Linked DNA regions of Homo sapiens: region 2 is linked to region 1. The links come from fine-mapping of genetic effects on gene expression. A gene starts in region 1. The other region holds a variant in brackets. All regions are shown on one strand. Distances are between the middles of the regions.

The links.
Region 2: its variant is fine-mapped to the expression of VASH1 in whole blood (INTERVAL, PIP above 0.99).

The regions. Positions count from the first base shown.
Region 1 is chr14:76,752,136-76,767,068 of GRCh38, reverse strand. It overlaps VASH1 (vasohibin 1), which reads right to left and starts at 5,601. Exons shown (of 7, transcript NM_014909.5): 1 at 3,939-5,601. The coding sequence starts at 4,247. RefSeq lists silencers at 5,075-5,344, 5,445-5,634.
Region 2 is chr14:76,713,434-76,730,511 of GRCh38, reverse strand. LOC105370577 (a long non-coding RNA gene) reads left to right here and starts at 3,801. Exons shown (of 2, transcript XR_007064273.1): 1 at 3,801-3,993. RefSeq lists an enhancer at 9,853-10,012. The variant C/G (reference allele first, on the strand shown) is at 7,166.

The sequences.
Region 1 (14,933 bases):
TTCACCACATTGGCCAGACTGGTCTCGAACTCCTGACCTCAAGTGATCCACCTGCTTCGACCTCCCAAAGTGCTGGGATTACACCGCACCCGGCCTAGTCGTGACTTTAGTGAAGCTCCTGACCTCCCCTGTGCCTCAGACACTTCATTTATAAAGTGGGCACCAACACAAAATCAGCCTTATAGTGCGAATGAGATGCTGCAGGTCGAGGCCTTAGAGCAGGGTCAGGCACACAGCACAGACTTAATTTGTGTTCACTGTCATCATTATCAGTGTGCCTCGCACATGCTAATCCCAGCAACGTTACCCTTTTAGAGGAGATGTCCAGGCTGGGTGTAGTAGCTCCTGCCTGTAATCCCAGCACTTTGGGAGGCTGAGGCGGGAGGATGGCTTGAGCCCAGGAGTTTGAGACCAGCCTGGGCAATATAGAGAGACCCCATCTCAACCAAAAAATAAAAAAATTAGCCAGGCATGGTAGGGCACACCGGTAGCCCCAGCTACTCTGGAGGCTGAGGTGGGAGGATCACTTGAGCCCAGAAGGTAGAGGCTGCTGTGAGCCATGACTGTGCCACTGCATTCCATCTTAGGTGACCAAGCGAGACGCTGTCTCATAAATAAATCAAAGGAAAGCACTCTGGAGTCATAATAAGTAGCTAGAGGAGATGTCCAAATTCCCATTCTGCAGGAGCTCTGTGGCCTGAGCCATAAGAGACCATAAAAGACCTTCAGCAGCTGGGTCTGGGGTCAGTGGCCACTAAGCTTTTAAAGGGGGTGGAAGCCTGAAACATCAAGGACAGACTCTTATCAAGGAGCCTAAGCTGTTGCTGGATTTGGGATCTTTCTAGAAATTGTTGCCCTATAACATACTGGCATCATCCCTGTAAAGGCTGCTTCTCCAAAGCGCTAGTGGGGTGTCGATGAACACTCACTCCCTGCTCCATTACTGGGTATCTATTAGAGGCACTTAATGAAGCATCACATGCTTTGCATCATTAATTCCTCTAACATCCTCTTGATGGGCATTGCTATTAGCTCCATTTCACAGCTGCGGAAAACTGAGGCACAAGAAAGTTGCCTGTCTTCCTCATATAAGTAGTTATGGGAGATCAAGGATTTGAACATGGTAGCTTTGACTCCAGAGTGCTCTCCTTTTATGACACCAGCCTGCAGGGGTCCCAGACTCAACCACATGCAGGGGCCGGGCAAGTAACATACACGGGGCAGGCAGGCCTGGTAGGTGAGTGGTGGAGACAGTGGCAAGATGGGGGAGTAGGACTCACTCCCCAGCCCCAGCTGACAGCTGCCACGTGGGACTGCAGATTCCCATGTGTTCCCAAGTCTTCTTATTTTCTGAAAAGATGCCAAAACTCTGGATCTTTATGTGAGAAATCTCCCAATTTTCCCAACAAAACACTTCTTGAGCCCCACACTGTGTGGCCGCTGTAGGGAATGACCCTGTGCCAGCTCCAGTGGCATGGCCCCTAGGGATGGTAAGGGCGGGGTCAGCCCACCCTGCCACTGGCACCCTGGCACCCAGGCACCCAACCCACGCTGCTTCTCTCCAAGGCCTCCTGGACTCCACTGCACTCCCAGACTCTAAGGGTACCTTTCTACTCAGAGCCCAGGTAGAGGAGGGACCTCATGCAGACTCATGCGATTTATCTGAGATCTGTGGTTTGAAGAGGGGGAGGTTCAAATTTTTCCAAACCTCTCACAAAATTCCTTCTACCCTAGCGATGGAAGTCTAGGGGTCTGTCACAACACAGCCCCCACCCCTAGACTTCCTTCATCCGTGTCTTTCCTGTACATGAGGACTGAAGATGACAGAATGACATTACAGACCAGTTACTAGTGAGCTCACTATTTCTTTTTTAGTTCCCAGGAGTGGTGGCAGTTCTGCAGGGAACCATTCACACTCTTTTATGGCCTGATTTAGACATAAGCAAGATGGCTGGAGAGCTGCCCGACTTGTTCACGTGGGAGCAGGGTGTGACTCTGGCCTCATCGGGACAAATGATCTGAGCAAAACCCAGTCTTGCCGCTTGATAAAGCACATAAGTAAAGGTGATGGATGTCTGGCCGGGCGTGGTGGTTCACGCCTGTAATCCCAGCACTTTGGGAGGCTGAGGTGGGTGGATTACCTGAGGTCTGGAGTTTGAGACCAGCCTGGCCAAAATGTTGAAAATGAAACCCCATCTCTACCAAAAATACAAAAATTAGCCAGGTGTGGTGGTAGGTGCCTACAATCCCAGATACTCAGGAGGCTGAGGCAGGAGAATCACTTGAACCAGGGAGGTGGAGGCTGCAGTGAGCCAAGATCATGCCACTGCACTCCAGCCTGGTGGAAAGAGTGAGACTCCATCTCAAAAAAAAAAAAAAAAGGTAACTGATATCCAATAACCAGGTACTGGTTTGGGGCTTTACAGTTTGTTAAATACTTTAACACACAGTCTCTCATTTCTTCCCCACAATCAACCTCATCTTATTGATAAGAAAACTGCATCTCAAATAGGTGGAAGAGGCCATATAGATAAGCAGGTGACCCCTACCAATGTCAATATCCTTTGACGCAATACTTTCGCTTTCAGAATTTTTCCCAAGGAAATAATCAGAGATGAACCCCAAAATTTATATTTTAGAATGTTCACCATAGTATTCATTTTAGGAATAAAACTGGAAACAACATCCAACTCTAGGGGATTAGCTAAATAAATATTAAGTCAGTGCAGAGCACATTTATGCGGCCATTCCAAATCAATCTACATTTTGTTTCCCCTGGAAACATTAGGCAGTATTTAAACCTTCAACCTTTGATTCTCTTTTTCCCAGAAGACACTTTCTGATGGCTGTACCAATAACTTGGTAAAAACAAAACGGGCCACTTGTCCTCATGTCTAATTCACACTAACTTCCATTCTTCCTAGCCCCCTTCCTTCCAACCTGGGCAGGCAGGGCTAAGCACTGGGCTCTGAACTCAGTCCAAAGGGCTCTTTTTTGGAGATTTCAGGCCTCTGCATTTGGCAAAGTGCCTCCTAGTCTTGATCATGTTTTTTTTTTTTTTAATATCTGGCATGTATTTCCATATAGCAGCGTACAGCACAGAAACTCTCAAATACCCTTTCATTCAGCAAACACACACACTAGTGCCTGTTCTGTGCCAGGCACACAGGAGGCCTTGGGAAGACAAAGATGAATGAGATACAGCCTCTGTTTTCGTTGGTGACACAACTGAAGTATAGCTGTCATGGAGGAGGAGTTACAGCCAACACAGAAAAATTATTTCATTTTATGCTTCTCCATAAGACCTCTTCTAATGTGCTTGAATCTACTGTCCAACAGAGAAGAGGACCTGGACACTTCCCTCCACCACCACCCCCCGCCCTTCTCCTGAAGACCTGAAATTGAATCTCAGTTCTGCCACTTACTGGCTGTGGGATCTTGAGTTCCTACTTGAGTTTTCAGCTTTCTCATCTGTAAAATGGGAATCCAAACTGTACTTACGTCACAAGGCTGTTGGGAGAATTCAATGACATAATGCACGAAAATATTTTCTCAACATATGAAGCCCTGCATCTCCTTAGTCATTCATTACATTTGTCTGCTCACAGTTCTCTGGCTTGGCAAGTGTCATCAAGCAAATGAGACGTCAAGCCATCCTACTGTGTTTGTTAGTTCCATCTGCTGCTGTCCCCTCCTGTAAAACGTGGACATTTTAAAAGACAGCGGGGAGGGCCTCCTGGAGACAATGTATGTGAGCCTCCCTCCTAGAATGGCAGTGAGAGAAAGTTCTCCTAGACAGGTATGATATCACTGCATTTTAAAGATCTTACCGAGCCAGTGGTCCCCTGCCCCGTGGGAGGAGAGTGTGGCTTCACTCTTGGCCCCAAGGTCACTAAAACCTAGACTGTGCTATCACCCCCCTGACCCGTGTGTCTCACCTTGGGCAGGTCTGTGGCCCCACGGATCCGTTGCGCCACCTTCTCTCCATCGGGGTGGATCTTGGCCACGTGTTTCCACATCCTTTCCCAGGTGGCCTCATCCACAGGTAGCCCACCCCGGTTGACAAAGAAGGGGACGCCTCCGTCTCGCAGGTCCTCTTCCCCTTCCTCTTCTGGCTCCTCATCTCTCTGGGCTGAGGTTCCTTCGCTGGTCTCCAAACGCCTGACCCCAGAGGGGGCGGTGGCCGCAGCGGACGTTGGAGTGGCACCGCTGCTGCCACCCCCAGCCACCTTCTTCCCCCCTGGCATCCCTAAATCTTCGAGGGGGGTGGTGGAGGCGGGAAAACAACTGGCTCACAAGAGGCCTCCCACACACCGGCTGCAGAGATAACACATGGCCAGAGTGCAAGGCGCCTTTAAGAAATCAGGGCGTGGCTCCTGTACAATAAAATACGACTTGATAAAAAAAATCAGTGCAATAAGGTGAATTAGGGTCCGAGGGGGTGGGTTGTCTGGGGTCAGCCTTGGAGGCCTTGTTCTGTTTGAAAAACGGAATAAAGAGAACACACCCCAACTTGGCAGCCGTCACAAAGCACCCCCATCTAACTGCGAGAACAATGACGGGCAGCAGTGAGGGCTGGCAGAGCGGAGAAAAGTCGGAGGGAAACTGAGGCCAGACAGCTCGGACCAGCGGCTGCAGAAAGGACAGAGTCAAGGCACGGGTGCCCACTGGGCGCCCTGGGTCTCAGTTTCGGAGGGAACAAAATCCCCTACACAACTCTCGCACGCTCACATCTGCGCGCGCCCCAAGGAAGACCGAGGCGACTCCCGGCCGCGCGAGCTCGGAACCAAGACCCCCGGGCGGGAGAGCGGCGCTGGGGGGCGATTTCTCCGACGCGACGAGACAAGTCCGGGAGCCAAGACTCGCAGCTGGCCGGGAGCGGGGAGGGGGCGCGCGCCGACGCGCACATTCCCCGCCTGCGGCCAACTCCCTGCACAAAGTGGGCTTTGTCTGGGTCCCCTGTCCCCTCGTCCCCAGAAACAGCGGCGGAGTCCCCAGAAAGGGAGCGGGCGCGGCGGGGAGGCGAAGGCTGCGAGCCCCGAGGCCCAGCGGGTCCCCACTCGGGCGCGTCTCAGCGGGAGGACGGCTGGCACCTGGCGCCGCGCTGCACCAGCCGAGCCATCGCAGGGCACGGGGCCCGCGGCTCAGCGGGACCGGCTCGGGCGGCGCGCAGGGGCCAGGCTGAGGTCACTGAGCGGCGGGCTGCGGCCGCGGGGTCGCTGCCTGGGACTGGCTGCAGCATGGGCGGTGGCGCGGCCCGGGCGGGCGGAGGATGCTCCGTGGCTGTTCGCTCGGGCTGCAGCTGCCCTGGCTGAGGGTGGAGGAAGGACCGCGGGGCGGGGACCGCAAGCCCGGAGGCTCGCGCAGCCTCGGCCGGCGGATGTAGCTGGAGGCGAGTGACGAAGCCGGGCGAGCGCGCGCTGCGCTGGTGCCTGGGGAGCAGCCCGCCAACGCGGAGCCCGCCAACGAGAAGCCCACCAGCCGATCGCTGCTCGGCGAAGCTGGGGCCGCCGCTGCTGCAGCCCCGCCGCCCCTGGGCCCCGCTGCCGCCGACCACGTCCCCTGCCAGCCAGCCGCCCACCAGGCTCGACTACGGCCCGCGCCGCGCATGCGCTCCGTCCCCCCCTTAAAGGGCCAGCGCCTTCGCGCCCAGTCCTCCGCCCCCCGCGGCGGTGCCTCTGTCCCAAGTTACCCCAAGGACGCCGGTGGGCATTCGCTCCCTCCTCACCCAGCTGTCAGGGCGCCGCGAAGCCGGTGCGAAGCTGCGGAGGACGTTTTCAACGTGCCAGAGGGAGCGCAAACTCCATGGAGATTCCTAGCGCAGAAGGAATTCCTGCGGTCGGGAATTTCTTGAAAAAGATTCTTCGCAGGGGCCCTGAGCCGGTAGGACCGAGAGCACTGGCCTGGAAGACTGGGATTCTAGACCGGATTCAGTGCCTGTGTTGCTTTGGGACGTTCAGCAGTTCCCTTCCCTCTGTAGGCCTCAGTTTCCCCATATCCCAGCCGAGGTGGTCACAGTGAGTGAGCGCAGAGTCCCTCCCAGCGCGCACAGTTCTTAGAGGAGGACATCTAGGGATTGAGACGGGGGGTCACTATCTCTGGAAACGAAAAGGGTTAAAAGTCACCCTGTTTTATTCGATTGCCTGCACTGGTGGGAATGGGGTGCGCAGAGCTCACCCCTAGACCATCTGCCTAGACCGGGCTTTGGACGCTCTGGACCCCGCGGACCAGGGTGGGACCGCGACGTGGGCGTGGGAGGCAATGCTTGGGGAGGGTCCGCTGGCCTAGAGGAAGGTGAAAGTACAACCAGCTGTGGTGCGTGGTTGGACACTGGACGCACCCTCCGCCTCCCTCATGCCATAGAGTTGTAAATGGTGGGAAAGGCACTATCTCTAGGCTGAAGCCAAGAACTTTAGGAAGAGACGGCCGAGTGTGTGCTTTAAGATGCTCCCCCTCTCCCCTGCCTGTAGTTAGCATGAATCACAGTCTTGTGGGAGAATGCAGATTCCTTGGCCTTAGCCGGCAGATTCAGATTCCTTAGTTGTGGGGTCGTTGCATTTCTTGACAAGCTGAGGTTACTACACAAGGGCTGGGTTAAAGGCCTTAGAGAGACCCCAGGGCCTCAGTGGTTTCACATCTGTTCTCTAAAGCTGTCCCTAGTATCTGAACTTTCTGGGTACCCTGTGCTCCCGTAGCAACCTCTTACTACCTCCAGGGTCAGAAACCAAGGGTTATCAGTGATGGGAAGGATTGCAAGACTCCAAGAAAGTTAGTTCAGCCTGGATCTTCTTAAACTCACTAAGGCAAGAAGACTCCAAGCGTAGAAAAATCACTAGGGATCAACAACTATCACCCTGTATTGTATAAACCAAGTCTCAGAGGGTAATTTCCCCAAACTCACACAGCTAGTAAGTGGCAGAGCTAGAATGTGAACAGAAGTCTTACTTCTTCAGACACTTGTTTTTCACTCTATACATTGCTTCTTGTGTTAGCCAAGTGGTGCTGGTTTTAAAATTGGCTTGCAAGCTCTTGACCATTCTTTTCAAAAGATGGGATCTAATTCCTTTCCCCCTGAATGTGGGATGTACTTGGTGACTGGTGTCTAATGAATAAAGTGTGATGAAAGTGAAGCTGTATGACTCTTAAGACCAGGCCATAAAAAGGAGACAGCTTCTTCTTGGTTCCTCAGAAGAAACCAGCTACCATGTTGTGAAGAAGCCCAAGCCACATGGTGAGGCCACATGAGGGTGTTCTCGCTGACAGCTGCTGCTGGGCTCTCAGCCAACAGCCAGAGTCAATCACCAGATCATGGCAAACCGAGACTTCAGGTCTTGCCAGCCCTCGGCCTTTAAGTCTTAGAGTTGAGGTCCCAGACATGGAGCAGAGAACAACCAGCCCTGCTGTGCCCTGTCTGACTTTCTGTCCCACAGAAATTGAGAGAGGATAAGTGACTATTCTCGTTTTAAGCTGCTAAGTTTTGGACTAACTTGTTACGCAGCATGAGATAATACCATGTGTTTTCTGAAATGACAAATAAAATAGATGTAGGGTATTCATTCAAAGAGTAAGTACTCATAGAACATCTTCTATGTGTTTGACTCTGTACTGGGCACTGGAGAAGCAGTAGTGAACAAGAGGGACATGGCCTTTGCTCTAGTTGGACTTATGGCCTACTAGTGGAGGAGATAGTTAAGCATGATTTCCATAAGGTGCTCTGCCAGAGGGTTATTCAGGAAGCTGTGGGAGTGCATACCCAGAGCAACTTCCCAATCAGGTGAGGAGCTGGGAAAAGAAGAAATGAGTTGGGTACAAGGTCAGCATGGACTAGGCTAGAGAATTTTCTGGCATGTGTGCATAGAAGTGGAAGAGGGTATGTGTCAGGCAAGGGGGCTTGCAAATAGATTAGAAAATGGTGAAACTGGAAAGAGATGTGTATAACCCAGTCTTATCTAAGCCAAAAGCCCAGAGAGAACAAGTGACTTAACCTGGTATGGCACAACTTTTGAATTGGTCTCAGATCCTGGGTCCTTCATCAAGCCCTCCCATGACTCCCCACACCTATGCCTTGGGAACAACTCCTCCAACAGACACTTGGGTAACTCCTTATTTGGCTCAAAGCTTTCGTGACCGTTATTTTTCTTTTTTTTCTTTTTTTTTTTTTTCCCCTGAGACAGAGTCTCGGTCTGTCACCCAGGCTGGAGTGCAGTGGCTCGATCTCTGCTCACTGCAGCCTCTGCCTCCCAGGTTCAAGTGATTCTCTGCCTCAGTTTCCTGAGTAGCTGGAATTATAGGTGCCTGCCACCATGTCTGTCTAATTTTTGTATTTTTAGTAGAGATGGGGTTTCACCATGTTGGCCAGGCTGGTCTCCAACTCCTGACCTCAAGTGATCTGTCTGCTTCGGCCTCCCAAATTGCTGGGCTTACAGGCGTGAGCCACCGCGCCCGGCCCTCATGACAATTATTCCTTTTGCTGTCTTCACAAAAACCGTGGAAGAGTTAGGATGAGTATGATTTCCATTTTACAGATGAAGAAAGGATGCATAAGAGAAGCTAGGCAAATTACATACCTAGTACAGGAGCAGGCACATCTGAGCTGCTGGGTACAAGTCACTTTCATGATGACAAGGATGACGATAATGACGCCTAACTCATATCATGTGTCACATTTGTTATCGTCACACTCTGGACTAATGGTCTGCAAATGAACGCATGTTGTCTTAGGGCATCAACACTCATATTAATCTGCTCTGACACATTTTCTATTCTTGTGACACAGAAGCTAGAGTGAAATTTCCAGAGAGAAGAGTCTGTTGACTTAGCTTGGATCCTTGGCTAGAGGAGGATGGGGCAATTTCATTAGCCAAGACTACAGGTGGTTGGGGGAGAAGGACTGCCCTAAAGGTAAATGGGGTGCTGTTAGTAAAAGAGGGGCATGGAGGCACACAGGTATAGATGTGTTTATAAAAGGTAGATGTTCTGACTCAACTTTTTGCTGTTTTCATGTTCATAATTTATGAGGTAAAAGAAGAAAAGAAAAGGAGTTTAATCCCAAGAAAGAATCACAGAGCAGAACTGTCCAATAGAAATTTCTGCAATGGGCCAGGCGCAGTGGCTCATGCCTGTAATCCCAGCACTTTGGGAGGCTGAGGGGGGTGAATCACGAGGTCAGGAGTTCAAGACCAGCCTGGCCAATATGGCAAAATCCTGTCTGTACTAAAAACTACAAAAAAATAGCTGGGCGCAGTGGCAAGCACCTGTAATCCCAGCTACTGGGGAGGCTGAGGCAGGAGAATTGCTTGAACTCAAGTGGCAGGGGTTGCAGTGAGCCGAGATTGCATCACTGCACCACAGCCTAGGTGATAGGGTGAGACTCCATCTCAAAAAAAAAAAGAAAAGAAATTTCTGCAATGGTAGCCAGAAGTTCAGTATGGTAGCCAGAAGTCATATGTGTCTATTTAAATTTGAATTTAATTAACATTAAATAGAATTAAAAGTTCAGTTTCTCCAATCACGCTAGCCATATTTCAAGTACTCAGTAGCCATTATGGCTCATAGATACTGTAATGAATAGTACAGATTATAGAACATGTCCATCACTGCAGAAATTTCTTTTCTTTTTCTTTTCTTTTTTTTTTTTTTTGAGATGGAGTCTCACCCTGTCGCCTAGGCTGTGGTGCAGTGATGCAATCTCGGCTCACTGCAACCCCTGCCGCTTGAGTTCAAGCAATTCTCCTGCCTCAGCCTCCCCAGTAGCTGGGATTACAGGCGCTTGCCACTGTGCCCAGCTAATTTTTTGTAATTTTTAGTACAGACAGGATTTTACCATATTGGCCAGGCTGGTCTTGAACTCCTGACCTCGTGATTCACCCCCCTCAACCTCCCAAAGTGCTGGGATTACAGGCGTGAGCCACTGCGCCTGGCCCATTGCAGAAATTTCTATTGGACAGCTCTGCTCTGTGATTCTTTCTTGGGATTAAACTCCTTTTCTTTTCTTCTTTTACCTCATAAATTATGAACATGAAAACAGCAAAAAGTTGAGTCAGAATCTTCATTCATTTACTCAATAAACATATACTAAATATCTACTCTGAATCATACATGGTTGTAGGCACCAGGGATACCTGGCGAGGATCTTGGAGCACTTCTGGTCCAGTGGAGCTTACATTAGGATCACCCCAGGGGCTCTTAAAATTCTTGATCCTCAGTCTGCACCCTGCAGAAATCCTGATGAAACTGGTTTGGAGTGGGGCTTGGTACCCATAGTCTAGAAAAGATCTCCAGGTAATGCGAATGGTAGCTGGGCTTGGAACCACTGAGATCTAGACTGGCCAGTGAAACGATTTGCTTCAGGTCACCTGAAAACCTGAATCTGCCTGGGTCTGACTTCCGCTCTGGGGTTTGCGTGACAAAATCAGAGAGTTTTTCATGGATTTGGCATCTGTCTGAATTGACTGCTAAATTCTTAGAGAACAAGTCTGTTTTTCCTTAATCCAAACAGAATCCAGTTCACTTCAGGTAAAGTGCCAAAAGGACCTCTGGCTTGGGATTCATTTTAAATCACTGCTTTCTCAAACTGTCCGTTTTGTTTCTGGAACTGAATTACTCAGCCAAGTGAGTGAAAGTCTATAAAAATAGCTCCTCTTCACTGAGCCCCGAGTGTAGGTCCGGTGCTTTACCTGCAGAGTTTCATTTAATTCCCAGGTCAATCTCGCAGGGTAGGTATTGCTGACATCAGTTTACAAGTGGGCAAACTGAGATTCAGAGCCATTGAGGATTGTAATTTGTTCAGGGTGGCACAGCTGATATGATAATTTCAGAGTTCATGTTTTTTCCCCTACACCGCTCTGCAGCTACCCCACAGCCGAGAGCGTGGGGCAGCTGGCAGATGGCAGCATTCTACTCTGGCTTCACATAGGAAAGAAAGCTTTGTGCTGGTGAAGCTCCAGACATGATCCGGACAATTGTTACCTGAGCTCAGTGACAGTACTAGGGGCCTGGAGGAAAGGGAGACTTGGGGATAAGACAGATGAGCAGATTTGGAGTTGAGTTCTTTTTGTTGATGGTTATGCCTGGATTCCTTTTATTGAGGGATTTGGAAGAAGCAGCTAAGAGCAATGTGGCGCCTGAAGCAGTTAGTTCTAAGACACCTAGCAATGATGATGCATGCTTGGTATAAGCATTATCTATTCTTGGCCTGGATTCCCGTGGGCTGGCAGAGTGGCTGTGTTGCCATGTATCTTTGCAATCTGATCTCTGCCTGATACTTCCCGGGCAGCCTGGTGTGGCCTCCAGGGGCTCGGAAGGGCCAGGACTCATTGTGTCCATTCCAAAGAACTCTAACAGAGAGATCTCACCCCTGCCATTCTCTGGGGGCCACCTTATACAGTAGTAGGAGATCCAGGCCTTGACAAGCAGCAAGGGCTGGTCTTAGAATGGATCAGGGCTTGTCTGCATCTCATTCAGCAGGTCCATGTGGGAGCAAAGCCACGACTGCTGGTAGAAAGAGTGCAGAGTAGGCCGGGCGTGGTGGCTCACGCTTGTAATCTCAGCACTTTGGGAGGCCGAGGCGGGTGGATCACGAGGTCAGGAGATCGAGACCATCCTGGCTAACACAGTGAAACCCCATCTCTACTAAAAATACAAAAAATTAGCCGGGTGTGGTGGTGGGCGCCTGTAGTCCCAGCTACTCAGGAGGCTGAGGCAGGAGAATGGCGTGAACCTGGGAGGCGGAGCTTGCAGTGAGCCGAGATGGCACCACTGCACTCCAGCCTGGGTGACTGAGCGAGACTCTGTCTCAAAAAAAAAAAAAAAAAAAAAAAAAAAAAAAGAGTGCAGTAGAGCACAGCTCGAAAGACCCTTCAAGATTTTCTTGTCTAACTCTCATTTCATAGATAAAATACTGAGGCTCAGAGAAGTGACAGGATTTAGGATTACACAGCCAGCTGGTGGTGGGATTACACTTGAACTCAGGGCTCTCCTGATTCCTGGCCCAGTCTGCCTTCCCTGATGTGTCCACTAGCAGGGAAGAAGCTGGTAGTAGGTGAGCCCTTGAAAGCACTGCAGTGGCAAAAGGGAGAGAGAAGGTCTTCCCACATTAAGGGAGAGAGAAGGTCTTCCACATTAAGGGAGAGAGAAGGTCTTCCCACGTTTGTTTCAGGGTGTGGCCAAGCTGTGTGTGTCAATGGGTGGCTGTGGATGGGGTGTGTATTTAGAAAAGCTGTCTTCAACTTGAAGGACTGGGTGATGGCCACTCTCTTTTCCAGGCAAATCACACTCATCCAGACTTGTATCCCTCCCATTGTTAGAAAACATGGTATTTCCCCCAGCGTTTTTCTCCATGCACTGTGGCAGGTGTTTGGATAGTCGGGGAGCGATCGGCGATTGAGTCAGGCAGGAATGGCCAGGCTGTGGTAGTTTCTCTCAAACTGTGGTCAAGGCTCTGGGTGTCCCCGAAAGAATCAAAGTCTGATCTCAGCCTCCCTGTTCAATGGATAGGACCCAGACTTGGAGACAGGGAGAAACAGAGGGAGTTCTGAGATGCTGGTACATCCTGAAGACTAGATCAAAACCATTTACAAGATGCAAGTCTGTAGGTCCATGAGGTGGGCTGGGTTTATTTCTTGAGGCTTGGTTCTCAAGGGAGACTTCACTTTAATTCGACAACAGTTTCTGAGTGCTTATACTATATGCATGGTGTAGCATAATTTGCTGCAGGAGATGCAGATACGTAAGACATTGCTATGGCCCCCTGAGGTTGCGTCGAAGATGACACATCCCAATAACTTTTTGAACCCTTACCATGGGCCAGGGGCTCTACATTTATGTAATCCTTACCATAATCCTGCAAATGGGGATTCTACTTTCCATTTTTTAGATGAGGAAATGGCCTGAGAGAAGCTAAACAACTGTTCCTCTGTCATGGCCAGTGAGTGGCTGAGCACGTTCAGAAGCTGTGCCCTTTCTGCGGTACCAGGAGGCCACCAGCTAACCACAAGATGTGGCAGACTCAGGCCAATGCTCCAAACCAGGCTTCAACAAGGTGTTTGAGGAGCACAGAGTGAGTGATTTGTTCTAATCTAGGCAACCGTGTTTGGCTTTAAGCACTGTTGATATTTAAAGCTGCACACTTCTTTGTTGTGGGGCCTGTCCTGTGCACTGTAGGACGGCTAGTGGCATTCAGGCCCTGTACTCACTAGATGCCAGTGGCAACCTTTCCCATTGTGACACTCACTCCCACTTGGGAACCACTGGTTTTAGGTAAGAAAGGGTCTTCAACCTAGGCTTATAAAGATTTTGTAGACAAGGATTTCGCAAACAAAAAAGGGAAGAAAACACTCATTCGTCTCATGTTTTTCCATTTGACAAAGGGTGTCCACTTAGATTTTCCAATTTGGTCTTTGCATTTGTCCTGTGGTTGAGTGCATCAACTTACAAAGCAAATTACAGCGACATACAGTTGCTAGCAGGCTGCAGTGCAGGCTGGGGGCTTCTCATCCATTGCAAGTTTCCTCAGTACCCAGCTCCTCTGTGGCCTTTGTGTTCAGCCTGTGTTTAATGCCTATTTTCTGTCCTTCATCTACTCTCCTTCCAGGGGGCTTTTTAGGGTATCTATTTTATCATCAACAGCTGCCACCAACTACAGACACTCATTTGGGGGTTAACTCTGTGTTAAGGGCTTTGCATAGCACCCCTAGAGGAAAGGTGTCCTTATCATCCCCATTCTGGAGGAAATGAAGGTTAGGAGAGGGAAGAAACGTGCCCAATTCACAACCCTGCTAAGTAGGGGAGGAGGCAGGACTTGAACCCAGACCTTGCTGAGCCTCCTCTCTTCACCACTGTGCTCTGTTGCCTCCCAAGAATGCCCTTTCCCCATCGTGCTGCCCACAGGGCTCTATGTACCCCTGTGATATGCTCACAGGAGAACATAGGCAGCAGCCAGCTCCAGCTGGCTTGGTGGGGGTGGGGTGAAGGGGGGCGAGAGTGCCCTTCCTACCCATCAGTTGTGCTGGGAAAGGGAAGACATGTTTCTGGTGGATCCTCTCCCCGTTGAGGGGTGATTATCCAGCCTGCTTGGCATTCAGCAATGAGAGAAGGCTTCCCATGAGCAGGGCAGAGCGCCCAGCCAGACTGCAAGACAAATGGGTGGCATATGCACTCCAGCCCAGTGCACAATCAGCTTGTGATTCTGCATCTGCCAGCAGGGAAATAATGCTCTATTACTGCAGGAGGAGCGAAGAAACATAACATCCGAGGCTGGGTCCTGAGATTGTTTTTACCTCTGTCCTCATCCCTTCTCTCTGGGGTCGTGGCCAGATGCTCCCTGCTTTGGGAACATTAGTTATGAAGCTTGTAGGGGGTTTAGCTCCACAGGGTCAGACCTGCAGGTGCAAACAGGCCCTAGGCGAACCCCCTGGAGGAAACGTTGACATTCCTGTTCTGTCCAGCTCACAGAACACTCTTGTTCACTCCCTTATTGCTGTGGGGAAAGACAGGGAAAAAGTGATGGGACCACTGAGGTAGTCCCTGGAGATGAGAGAGAAGGGTGGCCTGTTTACATCCATCACAGGCAGGCTGGGTTAGGGACAACAAAGATGGTCAGGTTCCAAATTTTCTTGAGTCGGGACTAAAGTAGCATCTTGTTAGTGTTTGCTGGGTTGGATAAAGCAGGGCTTCTCAAACCTGAGTGTGCCTCAGAAGAACCTGGGGGGCTCCTTACAGCACAGATGGCTGGACCCTGCCTCTAGAGTTTCCTACTCAGCAGATTTGGGCGAGGTCTGAGAACCTGCATTTCTTTTCTTTTTTTTTTATACTTTAAGTTTTAGGGTACATGTGCACAATGTGCAGGTTTGTTACATATGTATACATGTACCATGTTGGTGTGCTGCACCCATTAACTTGTCATTTACATTAGGTATATCTCCTAATGCCATCCC
Region 2 (17,078 bases), 38 kb after region 1:
GATTCTCTCTTTGAAACCAGACCAATTGTTCCATGGAACTGATGTTTATGGTTTCTTTGGAATAAACATAGGAATGGACCCTCCCAGTCTTAAAACATGAGGAATTTACATTTGTCTTATTCAAGTTCCTTTCTCAGGAAACCAACCATCAAGCCTCCCAGACAGTATCAAAGAACTGAAACTTACCAGATCACCACGTCTGGACAGTGAGATCTCTCACCAGTCATGATTGCCTCACAGACCACCTGCTGTCTGTTGACCAACTCTTTTTTACTCTCCCTAATTCCTGTTTTCCCACACATAGTTACATTCCTTCCTTGCTATATAAACTCCTAATTTTAGTTGATTGAAGAGACAGATTTGAGACTGACCTCCCATTCTCCTTGGCCACAGCACCCAAATCAAGCATTCTGCTCTGGTAATACTTGTAGTCTCAGTGATTGGCTTTCTGTGCAGCAAGGAATGGGACACCTGGCATTCTGTGCAGCAAGCAATGGGATGCCTGGCATTTCAGTAACATCTTCTGCCCCTGGAGCTGTACCCCACAGGCTTAAGGAAATTGGTCACGGGCTGAGCATGGTGGTAATCCCAACACTTTGGGAGGCCAAGGCGGATGGATCACTTGAGGTCAGGAGTTCGAGACCAGCCTGGCCAATGTGGTGAAACCCCATCTCTACTAAAAATACAAAAATTAGCCGGGTGTGGTGGTGCATCCTGTAATCCCAGCTACTCGGGAGGCTGAGGCAGGAGAATTGCTAGAACCCAGGAGGCGGAGGTTGCAGTGAGCCAAGATCGTGCCACTGCTCTCCAGTCTGGGTGACAGAGCAAGACTCCATCTCAAAAAAAAGAAAAGAAAAGAAAAGAAAAGAAAAGAAAAGAAATTGGTCACTGACCAGAAACCTTGAGCTTGACTTACAGGATGGTAGATAAGGAAACAGCTTGATACAATCCCCTCCAGTTGCAACAATAACTGGCTCACTGGCTGAAACTGGAACCAATATGGCTGACTAGAGTCTTCCCAGAATAGACTTACTTGCCCAGTGGGTGACTTTTGACATCACAGCCAAAATTTCCACTGCATATTTCATACCAACTCACCCTGAATTTGCGTGTGTGACTCATGAAGAAGCTTGAAGACACAACTATACACGTTCAAGGGCCTTTCCAAAATTCCTCTCCTTTGCTGCCAATCACTAACCACCCCAAAGCTCCTCCTCAGAATCTCTCCCTTAAATATACTGCTTCAAGGCTGGTCTTGCAATGTACCTTTCTCTACAGAAATATCTGCAAAAATGCTCCAGGGTGTGGCTTTCCATTGTGCATGAGCAAACAGACTCAGTTTGGTTCAGCAACACCCCTTGCTACTCTTGTTCCCCTCTTCATGTAGAACACATCTCTTTATTACATTTATCCCATTTCCCCTTACCCTACTGCCACCAGCAACGAAGGAGACATGGACTTGAAGCTCTTTAGCTTTCTGTGCTGCGAAATCTCAAAGGCAAGCAATTCTAAAGGGTCTGGCTACCCACTTAAAATCAGAGCAGGGACGAATCTATGGGAGAGCAAGACCAAACTATAATCTCAAATGATTGTGCTGCAAATGGATTCATAAAATGTTAAAGAGGGCGGTAATGCCTCAGAAAAGAGAATCCTCATTGTGGTGATTGAGCTGGCTTTAGGATGCCCACGGTAGTGATACATCTCACCGTGGAGAAGGGAGAGGTGGGGCTCTTTGGTCATTTAGGTCACTTCTGCACTGTGGTAACACGTTTACATGCCACAAATGCATGGTTAGGCAAAAAGGTGTTTTTTCTTGTTTAATTTTTCTTTTCTATTTCTCTCTCCTCTGGGATTGGTATTTTCCAACATTAAGCAGATTAATGTGCATGTGTTGCAGATTTCATGTGGCTTAGAGTTGTGTGGTATAGGGGAGGCAGAATTTTACCCCTACCTTTTTAAGGTTTTTCAGCTGGGCCTGAGAATTAAAGTGACATAAGACAGATCCACAGGATAAAAGAATACTAGTATATTTAGTACAAGTTTTCCATGGCATGGGGGCCTTCATAAAGAATTGAAGACCCAAAGACACAGCTAGAGTCGAACACTTACATACTGAATTAGACAGAATAGTAGAATTGTGAAAAAGTAACTAAATTCAGTGGGGAGGCTAAAAAAGGTAAGTTATTTTAACAAGGTCTGTACAGAATTCTCTCCACTAAAGCTTCCATTCTTGATAATAAGACTGTTACTTTCCTTGTAGTATAGGGAAAGTATACTTTCCCTATACTGTGGGAAAGAAAGCATCTTTCACATGGCAGTTTCATCTCCTGCTTTTAAGAAACAGAAGGAATGTCAGAATGATCTTCTTGCACCTGCTGTTTTTCAAATGCCTTTAACTCAAAATAGTCAATATGCCAGGGCAGCATATTTTGGGGAAGGCATGTTCTTATCTCCTTCAGTGGGAATGAGACAGTTGGAAACATTGTATGATTTGGAGAGGAAGCCCTGCATTTTCAGAGGCCTTTGTTTTGGGTGTGCCTTAACTGCACCTGCATTTCTTGCCGTTTCTTACAAAGAAACTTCCTTTTGAGAATCAAAATATTTCAGCTGAAGTTATTTTCAACCACAGGGAAATGTTTGAAATGTCAGCCTTTGTTAGCCCAAAGAATATTGTTTCATGAACAGTGATCGAAATAGTCATTTCCTTTGGGAAGCCTCTGCCATTGAAACAAACTTTGATTTTGGAAGCAAAATTTTGGCTTTAAAGATGTCATCCAAGTGTTACAACTTTTTCTAATAGCTCCCTGGCCATGTATTGTAGAGCTATGATAGGTTGTTTGGGTTTGAACAAGAAAACATGTTCTGGCTAGGTTGGGCAGTGTTAAGAGGAGGGACAGTATAGTGGTGGGGAGCAAATCCCTTACAGCCGGGCTGCCTGGATTTGCAATCCTCGTCATGCCACTGCAAGCTGACTCTTCGGCAAGTTATGTAACTGTTCTGGTCTCAGTTCCTGCATCTATAAAATAGGGGTGATGGTAGTATTTACTGCCTATGATTGTTATAATTATTAATTAGTGTATTAAAAAGCACTTAGAGGCTAGCACAGAGGCTAGGCGTTATAATTATTAATTAGTGTATTAAAAAGCACTTAGAGGCTAGCACAGAGGCTAGGCATGGTGGCTCATGCCTGTAATCCCAAAACTTTGGGAGGTGAAGGCAGGAGAATTGCTTGAGGTCAGGAATTTGAGACCAGCCTGGGCAACATGGTGAGACTAAGTCTCTACAAAAAATACAAAACTTAGCCAGATATGGTGCTGCACACCTGTAATCCCAGCTACTCAGGAGGCTAAGGTGGGAGGATCGTTTGAACCCGGGAGGATAAGGCTGCAGTGAGTCGTAATTGTGCCGCTGCACGCCAGCCTGGATAACAGAGTAAGACCGTGTCTCAAAACAAAACAACAACAACAACAAAACAACAAAAAAACAAAAAAAAGCACTTAGAGATGGCTAAATGCTAATCCAATAAGGGCTGTAGTTTAGTTAATAGTATTGCATTCATGTACATTTCCTGGTTAGATACAGGAGTGCTGGGAAGGGAAGGGTGTAGTTCTTTTAAATGATAGGGAAGGGAGAAGGGAAGTGCTGGGTAGAGGAGGGCGTGGTCTCTGGCTAGGGCTCCACCCCCACCGACCTAGGTGAGGACAGGAATTTACTGCCCAAATGTTGCATTTTCCAAGACCACCCTGGCCTGCCATGCCCCCATCCTGTGCCTATAAAAACCCGAGACCCTAGCAAGGCAGAAACAGCAGCAGCTGGAAGTCAAGAGGAGTGCTCTGTGGAGGAACACACCCACAGGCACCAGCATGCCGGCAGGCCACTGACTGGCAAAACAACGCGGTGTTTGGCTGGGGCAGTCGGAGGAGCGCTCGGGCCGCCAAGCAGACCGACTCCAGGGAAAACCATCTCCCTTCTGGCTCCCCCATCTGCTAAGAGGTACTTCCACTCAGTAAAACCTTCCGCTCATTCTCCAAGCCCACATATGATCCGATTCTTTGGTGCACCAAGGCAAGAACCTGGGGATATAGAAAGCCCTCTGTCCTTGCAATAAGGCAGGGGTCTAATTGAGCTGACTAAAACAAGCCACCTATAGCCGGCCAAACTAAAAGCAAAACTAAAAGAGCACACTGGGCTAGGTGCGGTGGCTCACGCCTGTAATCCCAGCACTTTGGGAGGCCTCATGAGGTCAGGAGTTTCAGACCAGCCTGGCCAAGATGGTGAAACCCCGTCTCTACTAAAAATACAAAAATTAGCCGGGCGCGGTGGCGGGCGCCTGTAATCCCAGCTACTCGGGAGGCTGAGGCAGAAAATTGCTTAAACCCGGGAGGCGGAGGTTGCAGTGAGCCAAGATCACACCGCTGCACTCCAGCCTGGGCAACAAAGCGAGACTCGGTCTCAAAACACACACATACACACACACACACACACACACACACACACAGTAACACGCCCACTAGGGCTTCAGCTGTAAACATTCACCCCTAGACACTGCCATGGGGTCGGAGGCCCATAGCGTGCCTGTCTGTATGCTCCCCTACAGGTTTGAGCAGCAGGGCACTGAAAAAGCAAGCCACATCCCCATCGCACGCCCTGCAAGGGGGACAAGGGAACTTTTCCCATTTCAGTTGTGATGATTGTACTATGAATATGCAGGATGTTACCATTGGAGGAAGCTGGATTAAGGGTACACGGGAACTATATAGTATATCTATGTGCACTTCTACATGAGTCTAAAATTATTTTAAAAATACAAAGTTAAAAAGTACTTAGGGAAACTATATTTGGTAGTATGATTCTTTGAGTAAGGTTTGTCTTTGACAGGAGACTGTGGACTGTAAACTCTCTGAAGTTAAGGACTATTACTGTTTTCCCCAGCACCTAGTACAGTGCATGGCACATAGTTGGTCTTCAATAACTATTTGCTGACTGAAAATGAATAAAGAAGATACTAAGGGTACCGGCCAGCAGAACTTTAAGCAACAAAAGAGAGACAAACCAGTTCCTGCATTAAGGTGGGAGGAAAGAGGTGAGAGGGCCATGCACCAATATTTGGTAAGACCTTCAAAACACATGCACACACACATGCATGCCCGCAAACACATGTACACACACAACATGCACCTGCCCCTGTGCAAATTAGGGAGTGGTTTGAGTGCCACGGATGGGTCAATGGTATGTGTGCCAACAGCAACAACAGCAGGATGGCAAGGTGATTCCTAAAGTGATGTGATTCTGCAGATGCAGCTCAGAGCCAGTGGTGAGCACAAGAATTTGGGATGAATCCATGTTATCTGGATTTTGGGTGGCTTGGTGAACCCAGCTGACAGTTTTAGTAAATAAACCTAGACGATCTTTTTCTGTACTCAAATGTTAAATGTAAGGACAATTGTTTAAACATCGTTCTAGTCTAAGGAAAGCTAGAATGCTACCTAGTTTGCTAGAATATACCCAGAAACAGGGGAAGAGGGTTGATATGGTTTGGCTGTGTCCCCCGCCAAATCTCATCTTAAATTGTAGTTCCCATAATCCCCACGTGTCATGAGAGGGACTTGGTGGGAGATAATTGAATCATGGGGGAACTTATCCTCATGCTGTTCTCGTGATAGTGAGTTCTTACAAGAGCTGATTTATAAGGGGCTTTCCCCCTTTTTGCTTGGCACTTCTTCCTGCCACCATTTGAAGAAAGATGTGTTTGCTTCCCCTTCCATTGTCATTGTAAGTTTCCTGAGGACTCCCCAGCCATCTGAACTGTGAGTCAATTAAACCTCTTTCCTATATAAATTACCCAGTCTGGGGTATGTCTTTATTAGTAGCGAGAGAACGGACTAACACAGGGTCAAATTCAAGAATTAAGCTATGCTGCTGGTAATATCAGGGTCACACCACATATGTGATAAGCCTATCAGAACATCACAGGGTTTAAACTGATACTACCATTTATGATTTGGAAAGGTTCTAGAAATTAAGAGATGCTTTGCTGCATTTGTAACTCTAAGAAATACAAAAGGTTTGGGTGTGAATTAGGTTTCTCTATTATATACAGGGTGTTAAATCAGACTTTGCAAACAATCCTAGGCAAAACTTACAAGGTCTGAAAGCATTTCCCAGAAGCTATTCACAATGCCTGACTTAAATACTCTGTATATAAAATTATAATGTAAAACTGTTGTTCCAATTTTTTTTCATAAAAGCCAAATACTTAAAACTCGATGTTTTATTTCAATATCTATCATATCATTGGGCAGGTTAGGATATGTAACAAATATTCTAAGCTCCTAAGAATGGATGGAACTATGTCACCTGTCTGTGTCTTAGCTGCCCAGGTAGAAACTTGGTTCTTTAAAGCTGTAGGGGAAGAAAATCTTTACCTCAACCATCTTAGGGTTACTGGTTGGGACTGATAATTAAGATGACATAGGCAGATGAACAGGAGAAAAGCACACAGGTTTTGACATGTACATGGGATCCCCCAAAGGAAAATGAAGATCTAAAGAACTGGCAAAACCTAAGTGCTTATATACTAGGTTGAACAAAGAGAGGCAATTGTGGAAGAGTAACTAAAATATACATGAGGACTAAAAGAACGTAAGAATTATTTTAACAAGGTCTGTATGTACAGATTTCTCTTGGTCTCAACTTCCTATCTCTGATGATAAGAATGTTTCTTTCCTCCTGGTATAGGGAGGGGACCTTTCACATGGGAGATTTATCTCCTGTTTTTAGGAAGAAAAGGGGAGGTCAGAGCACCCCTTTTGCAAGTGCCTTTAGTTCAAAATAATCAAGGCAAGTGGCATATTTTGGGGATGGCATATTCTGCCACCCTTCAAAGCCATGGACTGTGTGTATGACTGTGGATCTATTTTTCATGTTCTCCATCCCCTTCCTATATACCATGTTGTTTTGCAAATAGTTGATGCACAGTGAATTTTGGTAGATTTTTAAAAGCTCTTCACTGTACTCTATTAGCACAGATAGTCTTACTATTCAGTTGCATTTCTAAATGCTGTTAGTGCAACTATTACAAATGCAATATGTGTTCATTGCAACAAGTGGAAAAAGTACAGAAAAGTGTAAGGAAAATAAAAATCCATCATGATTCCACTGTATA[C/G]CAATAATCACTGCTGACAGTTTCACATATACCAGACTCAGATGTTTTTGTGCATGAGTGGATTTATATAGTACACAGTTGATAACCTGTTTTTTTTTCTGAGTATTGTCTATAGAATTCCCATCATTAAGTATATATCAACATCACCATCTTTACTGACTTCATAGTATTCCATTTATGTATGTGCTGTAATTTCAATCCCTATTGCTAAATATTTAGGGTATGTCCACATTTTCTCTACTATATGCTGCAATTCAGCAAATATCTCTGAACATACATTCTTGGGAAAAGTTCTCAAGAGTGAAATTGCTGTTACTTTCAGTTTAAAATTTGATTATACTCCAAGTTGTTTGATTTTTAAGGATGTTGAACACCTGTACATATGTCTAGTTTCCCTACTTTGAATATAAGCTTCTAGAATAGAAGGAAGAAATCAAATCTTGGAAGTCTCTGTATCCTCTACAAGTCCTAGCACAGCTCTGGGTGTTGGAAATGCTTTTGACTGCAAATCATGGAACACCTGTGCAAGAGTAGCTTAAATCAAAAAGCCACTTAATCATCGCCCATAATTAAGAAGCCTGGGTGTAGACAGTTCAGGGGTTCGTGCAGCAGCTCAGCGAGGTCCTTCCACCCTTTTGGCTTTAGCACACTTCCTGCCCTGCCTGAGCGCCAGCACATTGTCTTCACTCGGCACGCCCAACCCAATCTAGAAACAAGGAGGTGGGCAAAGGAGCTCTCCTCTTGCCCCTCTTTTTTTTTTTTTTTTTTTTTTTTTGAGACAGAGTCTTGCCCTGTCGCCCAGGCTGAAGTGCAGTGGTGTGATCTCAGCTCACTGCAACCTCTGCCTCCCAGGTTCAAGCGATTCTCCTGCCTCAACCTCCTGAGTAGCTGGGATTACAGGCACGCGCCACCACGCCTGGGTAATTTTTTGTATTTTTAGTACAGACGGGATTTTGCCATGTTGCCCAGGCTGGTCTTGAACTCCTGAGCTCAGGCAATCCGCCCACCTTGGCCTCCCAAAGTACTAGGATTACAGGCGTGAGCCACTGTGCCTGGACTTGCCCCTCTGTTTTTATCAGAGAGGAAAAGATTTTCTAAAAACAACCCAGGAGAATTTTTTTTGTATCTTATTGACTAGGCTACTTCTAGCGCAGAAGAGGCTGGGAAGGTATCTTTGGCCTTTCATCCCCTATGATGAAAGGCAAGCTCATGGGAAGGAGTCAGGGAAAGACTGTTGCGTTGGCCACCAACAAAAATGGGGCCCAGTGATAGGACTGAACATATTCCCAGAGTTGGCATGTAGATCATCTCCTGCCCCCACTCCTCTTCATCTCTCAGGGAAGAAAACGAGTTTTTATGGTGTCACCAGCCATGGGATCTCTGGGGACCCAGTGTCACCAATTCTGCCTCCCTCCTTAGCGTTTTGGTGGGGCTTTCCTGTTCTTGTGGGTGTCCTCCAGGGGAGACTGGTCCTACAGGGGGCCCAGGGCTGTGGGAGGTGCCGTCAGGGCATCTCAGCAACTGAGAGAGACTTGGGCCACACCCGTTTTTCAAGCTCCCTATAAATTAAAAATACAGGAGAAGAACCCTAACAGCATTATAAAGTTTGCAGTTTGGCCCGGCCCGGTGCCTCATACCTGTAATCGAGCACTTTGGGAGGCCAAGGTGGGCGGATCACCTGAGGTCAAGAGTTTGAGACTAGCCTGGCCAACATGGTGAGACCTCGTCTCTACTAAAAATACAAAAATTAGCTGGGTAGGGTGGCAGGCGCCTGTAATCCCAGCTACTCGGGAGGCTGAGGCGGAAGAATCGCTTGAACCCTGGAGTCAGAGGTTGCAGTGAGCTGAGATCTTGCCACTGCACTCCAGCCTGGGCAACAGAGCAAAAACTCCATCTCAAAAATAAATAAATTAATTAAATAAAGTTGGCAATATATTTTAAATGTTTGCCACTAACAGATTCATTCCTTAATACAAAGAAAACACTGCAATAAAATTGGACACCATGGCCTTTAAATTTATGAAAAATACTGACTCAGTGTAGTGTAGCTGGTGTGACCCAGGATGGGGACAAGTTCAAAATTGAAGGTTGAGCAATCTTTTTTTTGGCAACGGAATCTCACTCTATTGCTCAGGCCGGAGTGCAGTGATGCAATCTCCACTCACTGCAGCCTCTGTCTCCTGGGTTCAAGTGATTCTCCTTCCTCAGCCTCCCGAGTAGCTAGGACTACAGGCGCTTGCCACCCCGCCTGGCTAATTTTTGTATTTTTAGTAGAGACAGGGTTTCACCATGTTAGCCAGGTGGGTCTCGAACTCCTGACCTCAAATGATCCACCCACCTCGGCCTCCCAAAGTGTTAGGATTACAGGTGTGAGCCACTGTGCCTAGCAGGCAGTCTTCTTACAATGCAGGTGTTTTGTTTGGAGGTCTTTGCAAATCTAAATTTGAGGTGCTTCATGAATCGAATATATTTTGTATTTTTAGTAGAGACAGGGTTTTGCCATGTTGCCCAGGATGGTCACAGCAAACAGTGCTCCTGGGCCCCCTGTGATAGGCCCCAGGGCAAGAGTTAAGGCCCAAAAGGACTGAGGCCTCAGGTGCCGCAATTTCAGAATTAGTTACTCATTTCCTTCCTCTCCTCCGGTCTGATTTTCCCTTCCCCACCAGCCTCCTGCGCTCCTCTCACTTCCCTTTCTCCCCTCCTAAATTCTCCATCCTCTTTTCTGACCTCTTCCTGCCCTCCCCTTCCTCCCTTCCTTCCCTCCTTTGAAAGTCTGGTCCTCTAGAGCTGTGGAAAAGACTGGAATCTGAGCCCTGGCCTGCAGCCAGCAGGGAGCCAGGAGGAGCAGCTGCAAGGTCAGACCAGGGTCACATCAGCTGCTGAGAGAGAGAGGAAGTGAGGCTGCCTGGGCTTCCTGGCCCTCAGGGACAGGCTTACTCCACATGGCCCCTCTCTGCACCCCTGTTCCTGCTGAAAGGTGCCAGGATATGCCACCCCAAAACATACCACTTTGGCATAAGGATTATTTTGAGCTAAAGGCACTTGAAAAACAGCAGATGCAAGAAGGGCATTCTAATCTAGTTTCTTCCTGAAAACAGGAGATACGGACTTTCATTTGAAAGATGCCCTCCCTGTACCAGGAGAAAAGAAACATTCTTTGAGTTACTCAGAAGACACTCTTTGTTTGCTGGGAAGATTGTGGCTTATTTTAAAAGCAAAAGCAGCATCCCTCACCCAGCATCACTTTGCTCAGGGCTGCCTTTTGTTAAGGAGCTCCTTAAAACCAAACTCAGGAGGCATTTTCTTTTTTCTCCTATGACCAGAGTGTGTTGGCAAACAGGCTGCTCCATGCCTAGTGTGGCCACTCCCAGCGCACTGGTCGGGAATGGGAGGGAGGAGACTCTGTCCCCTTGACCCAGTTTTGGGGCGAAATCCAAGAGCCTCCTTGGCTCTGTGCGTCTGCCTCTTTGAGTGTCTGCAGCACCAGCTCTCCACTGGTTGTTTTAGAGTTTCAGGGTCTTAATGATGTCGAGACCGTAATGGTGCCAGGGCATTGGTGCTGGTTATTGGTTCCACAGGTCACTCCTGGGCTGGCCCTCAGTCTTGTCCACATGGCTCTGGGGAGGTATGGGGGTCACTCTGCCGCTTCATGTCACAGAGCCCTCCATGCCCCGTCGAGTCCTGTCCACGCAGGCCTTCTCTCTTGGGTTGCTCCTCCTGAGACCCATCCCTTCTCTGTTCTCATCCTCTCCCCTCCAACACCAGCCCAGGAAAAACCTTTCCTACATTTTGGGTCCTTACCTGTAATCTCCTCTGTTCTTCCCAAATGTTTAGACTTTAGGGATTGGAAGCTGGGAGTTCTTAGACTGCTATCGACTTTCTTTCCTTCCACCACTTTCTTCAGTAAAGGAGCACAGAGCCCAGGATCTGCTTTAAAGGGGCGGAAGGAAAAACGGGGCAAGAATCTCGAAAACGTGGCCCCACTTCTGAGTGCTCGTCACCTGGCACAATACCTGGTACACAGCAAACAATTGTTAAACCAAAAAAAAAAAAAAAAAAGCTGGGCACAGTGGCTCATGCCTGTAATCCCAGCACTTTGGGAGGCCGAGACGGGTGGATCACCTGAGGTCAGGAGTTCGAGACCAGCTTGACCAACATAGAGAAACCCTGTCTCTACTAAAAATACAAAATTAGCTGGGTGTGGTGGCACATGCTTATAATCTCAGCTACTCAGGAGGCTGAGGCAAGAGAATCACTTGAACCCAGGAGGTGGAGGTTGCAGTGAGCGGAGATCATGCCATTGCACTCCAGCCTGGGCAACAAGAGTGAAACTCCATCTCAAAAAAAAAAAAAAAAAAAAAAAAAAAGAAAAGAAAAGAGAAACATGGCAGCAAGAGAATGAATAAATGCAGGCCACCTGGCTCAGAGCCGCAGGACTTGAATTCAGATCCCAGCCCCCTGGCTGACCTCCCTGTGTAAGTTCTACTGACCTAATCCATAAAGGAGGGGAGGGATGAGTTCATCGCTGGGATTCCTTCCAGCCCCCAAACTCAATATTTTGTATCCACATAGGAAAAAGAAAGAATATTTATGCAGTCGTCCCACTGAACTGGAGCAGGGAAGAAACCTGCCTGGATGATTCAGGCTCACATACACAATCATCTCCAAATATGCTTCCCTTCTGTCAAATGCCATCTCCTAAATATCACCAGAGCAACCTGCGGAGAAGGCAAGGCTGAGTTGATTGTTCACCGTGGTAAGGTAGAGTACCCCCTCCACAAAGCCTCAGTAGCTTCCCAAAGTGGGAGGGCAAAGTGATTTTTATTGAGACTTTGAGGCCTGGTTTAAGGTGGCTCTTTCAGTGCAGAGGTGGCATGCTTGATGGGGGTTGCTAAGATCATGATTGGTAGACACAGCAAAGTGAGGATTTCTGGCTGAGGCGTTCAAAGAACCTTGGGGTATAAACTGTCTTCCTATTGAACCTATAAACTGATGCTTCCTGTTGAAGACATGGTGTGTCCTTCAGGAAGTTCCTGGGATGAACAGTAGAGTTATTTACAGCTTTTATCTTCCTGGGCAAGCATTTTCTGGAATAATAGTGAAGTTACTTTGATGAGGACAGTGGAATAGTAAAGTCATGTTAATATAGACAGTGAGCTATGAGTGGTTTGATTCTCATCCCAAGCTGTCTTGGTTCGCTGTTTGAATGACTGTGATGTCCCCTCCACCAAGAAGGCTGACGCCTATGAACATGTGTACTCCCTTTCCCTCTTGGTCCAGCTGGATTTGGCCCATGAAGGCAGGGAGCAGAGTGAGGCTGGAATATTCATTTCTGTTCTCTTTCTGCTGGTATTACCCAGCAAGCAATGGGCTCACTGCCTGATGCACACACAAGCCAATACCATGGCACTGAAAACCTTTATTGGGAATTGACTGGCAAGACAGGAGGCAAGGCTGAAATCTATGTCGCCTAGCTGGTGGGCTGGGGCAGGTTTTATAGGCGAAGGGTAATGAACCATGATCTGATTGGATCTTGCAATGAGGTGATGCTGGGGAGGCATGATCTGACTGGATCCTGCCACGGGGTGACACTAGAGCTCAATCTGATTGGATCCTGGATCCTGCCATGTGCAGTCCACCTCTGAAAGCAGTCCTTGCTCCCGGCTTCCAGCACTTAGGTTCCACTTGTGGTTGCACACTTGGTTCATCTGGGCATGTTCAGGTTACTTGACTTTCAACTTGGGGATCCATGGCAACCAAAAAACAACTCACGACTTTGTTACATAAAAGTTGAACCAGGGCTGGGCACGGTGGCTCACGCCTGTAATCCCAGCTCTTTGGGAGGCCGAGGTGAGCAGATCACGAAGTCAGGAGATCGAGACCATCCTGGCTAACACGGTGAAACCCCGTCTCTATTAAAAGTAAAAAAAATTAGCCAGGTGTGGTGGCAGGTGCCTGTAGTCCCAGCTACTCAGGAGGCTGAGGCAGGAGAATGGTGTGAACCTGGGAGGCGGTGCTTGCAGTGAGCCAAGATTGCGCCACTGCACTCTAGCCTGGGCAACAGAGCGAGACTCTGTCTCAAAAAAAAAAAGAGTTGAACCAGATTGGTCTGGTGTGATTACACTGGGTTGCCCTGGGTTGGTTGCCTCCGCCTGTTTCAGCCCTCAGCTCCTATCACCAGCCTTCTCAATAGCTTCTCTCTTGAGTTGGGGTAACTGCTCCCCGACTTGCCCTTTTATGCCTAAGGGAGCCTAGCTCCTAGTATCCCATGTGGCTCTTTCTCTCATTTCTTATTCCCAATGAGCATGTGTTGCTTTCCTAAAGGCATTTCCATAACATTATACTTTTAAAGTCAACTGTGTGTGAGTATAAATGCTATTGGACATCAGGGGAGAACTCGGAAAAAAAAAATGTTCATTTTTATTGATAAACTTTTTAACTAAGGCAATTTTCAAAGAAAGCTAAAATCATGACATTCCTACAAACATAAAATGGACATGTTAAAATTGTATTTAGTGCATCATTAATGAAGGCTGGTAAGATGTGACAACCGGTTCAAATGAGAAGTCAAAAGAGGCACAAATTTATATGGAGAAAAGCAATGTTGAAGTGTATTTACGAATAGAAGGAAATATATTTACGAATAGAAGGAAACATATTTCAAATAGAAGGAAACTGGCTTTCCTTTGGAAAATAGGAAGTAAATTGAACCACCTCGGGACAGAATGTATTTGCATGCCTGCAAACAGGAATTATTTACATTGCTATCAGTTATCTACAATTTACAGATTTGAAAAATAGCTCAAAGGCAATGAATGGCCCAGAGACCCTAAAGCATCGCACTCAGATAACCTGGAAGGGTATGCTCTAAAGGATACACAGTTTCCCAATGAAGCACACATTTTTTCCTACGTGACATTTATTAAGCAGTTAATACTTGCAGGCAGTGATCCAATCCATGGGGACTGATAGTCTGCTTGGAGATTTAAGACACAAAAGAGCTGAGCCGTCTCCCTCCAGCAGTCTGATTAGTGGAGTGTTTATTATACTTCCTCTCAGTGACATAAAGATACTCCAAATTGAGTTCCATCATCAAGCTTTCCTCTTGAGAAAAACAAAAGTTTCCACTGCTTTCAAAAGTTTGAAAGCCACCAACCCATGTCCAGCAGGTTCATTTTATAGAAGAGAAAATGAAGGCTCAGAGAGGAAATGTGGTCTGCCCTGGGGCGCGCAGCTTGTTAACTCATGTCTGGTCGGAAGATGGGCTTTCAGGGCCGAGAAGGTGCTCCTTTTTGGCATTATTAGGTGACAGAAAGAGCTCCTGGAAGGGAGGATTTAGGAAGCAGGCTGTGACAGATGGTTTTCATCTCCTGTGCTCTGGGAAATCGCTACCACCCTCTAATTGGATGTTGGGAGCTTCAAGCAAACTGGCAATCTACATTGTATCATTGTTCCGTATCCCTAATTATCCCTTGGGATTTGGCTTAAGTGCAGCTTAGAGGATGTTCATTAATAGTGTCGACAGGGACACTCAGCATTTGTAAAATTCTTTACAATAATTGAAGACCTAGCATTGTTCTGGTGTGGTAAGGAAGCATGTTTGCTCCCAGCCGAAAGATGACTTAAGCTAAGAGGGTGGAGACTGGCTGACTTGGGAGTTGTTTTTCTAACGTCCAGGTCTGAACTCACAGTTCTACAATCCTTGTTTTCACCGGCTCAAGGAAGCTCCTTGATGAATTACATGAGTTCAGCTTACTAATGGGCTTACTTCACCAGAGTCAGAGTGATCTGTCCTTGGCATTTCATAACCCACTTCAGTTTCCTATCTCTTGGCCACCGTATTGTCAAAAACCTCATATTCCTGTGGCCATGACCAGTTCCAAAAGAAGCTTTGTCTCCACAGACAGATCGTGGTTCCATCTGGGCCTACCACCAAAAGCCTTGTGATTCCAGATGGAAAAATCCCCACACCCCCCCCCGTTTCCAAAGCAGCCCCCCATCTCGATTGTTTTATCTACAGTCAGCAGCACGAATCCTCCACAATCAGAGTCTCTCCGGGGGTGGAAAGAGTGGCTAATGGGGGATACAGCTCATCTTCAAACCCTGTGCCATGTGAATGGAAAAAAAAAATGCACACATCTGGCTGGGTTAGATAAAGAGGAGGGCTGGGGCAAAGAAGCCGGGAGTGGTGGTGGGGGCTTCCCTCTATCAAAGAAAACATTAAGAAAAAGGCTGCTTTTATTGCAGAGGAAAATTAAAACTTTACATTGTGACTGGAGCTGTTCAACCATCTACATTTGGCTGGGCACGATGGCTCACGCCTGTAATCCCAGCACTTTGGGAGGTCGAGGCGGACGGATCACCTGAGGTCAGGAGTTTGAGACCAACCTGGCCAACATGGTGCAACCCCATCTCTACTAAAAGTCCAAAAATTAGCTGGTCATGGTGGCAGGCGCCTGTAATCCCAGCTACTCAGGAGGCTGAGGCAGGAGAATCGCTTGAACCCGGGAAGTGGAGGTTGCAGTAGCCAAGATCGTGCCATTGCACTCCAGCCTGGGCAACAAGAGCGAGACTGTCTCAAAAAAAAAAAAAAAAAAATCTACATTTTTGTTGTTGTTGTTTTCAAAAGATATCCTTGAGGAACCCCAAGTATTTGGCTGGAATCCTTTGGTGACAGCCAGTTTCCTTCCAGGAGGTTGGAACAGAGCTGCATGTGTGTACATGTGTTTGGGGGGATACAAGGAATTGAGTGGTTTTCTTTCAATCATAGCCTCACCCTCCTGCCATTTGAGGAAGACGGAGGGAGAAGGACAGGATGGGAGGAGATAATTTCTGAAAAAAATTTTTTTTTTTTTTTGAGTTTCACTCTTGTTGCCCAGGCTGGAGTGCAATGGCGTGATCTTGGCTCACTGGAACCTCTGCCTCCCGGGTTCAAGCGATTCTCCTGCCTCAGCCTCCCAAGTAGCTGGAATTACAGGTGTGCACCACCACGCCTGGCTAATTTTTGTATTATTAGTAGAGACGGAGTTTCACCATGTTGGCCAGGCTGGTCTTGAACTTCTGACCTCAGGTGATCCACCCACCTCAGCCTCCCAAAGTGCTGGGATTACAGGCGTGAGCCACCATGCCTGGCCTGATGATTTCTGAATTTGAGGAATGAAATTTCAGCTGCCAAAGAGCACCTGGAGATGTGTTTCCTCCTCCCACACCCTCTTTCTCTCCCCACAGCCCCTACTTACCCCAGTCCCCAGAACCGCCTCCCCTGGAGGCATCTGGGACATCATTCTCACTACTCATTTCCTCCTTCCTCAGCTACAGGGGAGGCCAGCTTTCTGGTCTTCTGTTGCCCATATTGGACTTTATTTGGTGCTCCAAAGGGAGGTAGAAATTGCAAAGGACTCCCCTGCCCTTGCATATTCTGTAGATTCCCATCGCATGCTTCAAATAAGCCGTGTCCATTCTTCCCCCAGAGCCTTGCCTCTGTACCACCCCAGCTTCCCCCACTTCCTTTTTGCTGAGAACTTTCTCTGTATTCATGAAAGTTCTCCCTAATAGCCTGAATAAAATAATCTCCTTAATTATCCGGGGCATTTCTTTCACCCTGTACTGCCCACACCAGGAGTCTGAAATAGAACCATAAGCACCTTCAGCGTTAAGACAGGGAATTACCTTAAGTGGTTTCAGGAAAGATGTGAGCAGGAGCTACTTAATGGGGTGAAGGTGAGGCTGCCTTGAAGATGAACCCTCCTTTTGGGCAGTGTTTCACTTCAAAACCTCAGAAGCGGTGACCCTAAGGAGATTTTTATTAACACACCTACGAAGCAAACATAAACCCCCCTCTGTGTGCGTGTGTGCACGGATGTGTGCTGGGGGGCAGTGCAGGAGAGGAGGGGGTGCTGGAGAATCTCCAGGT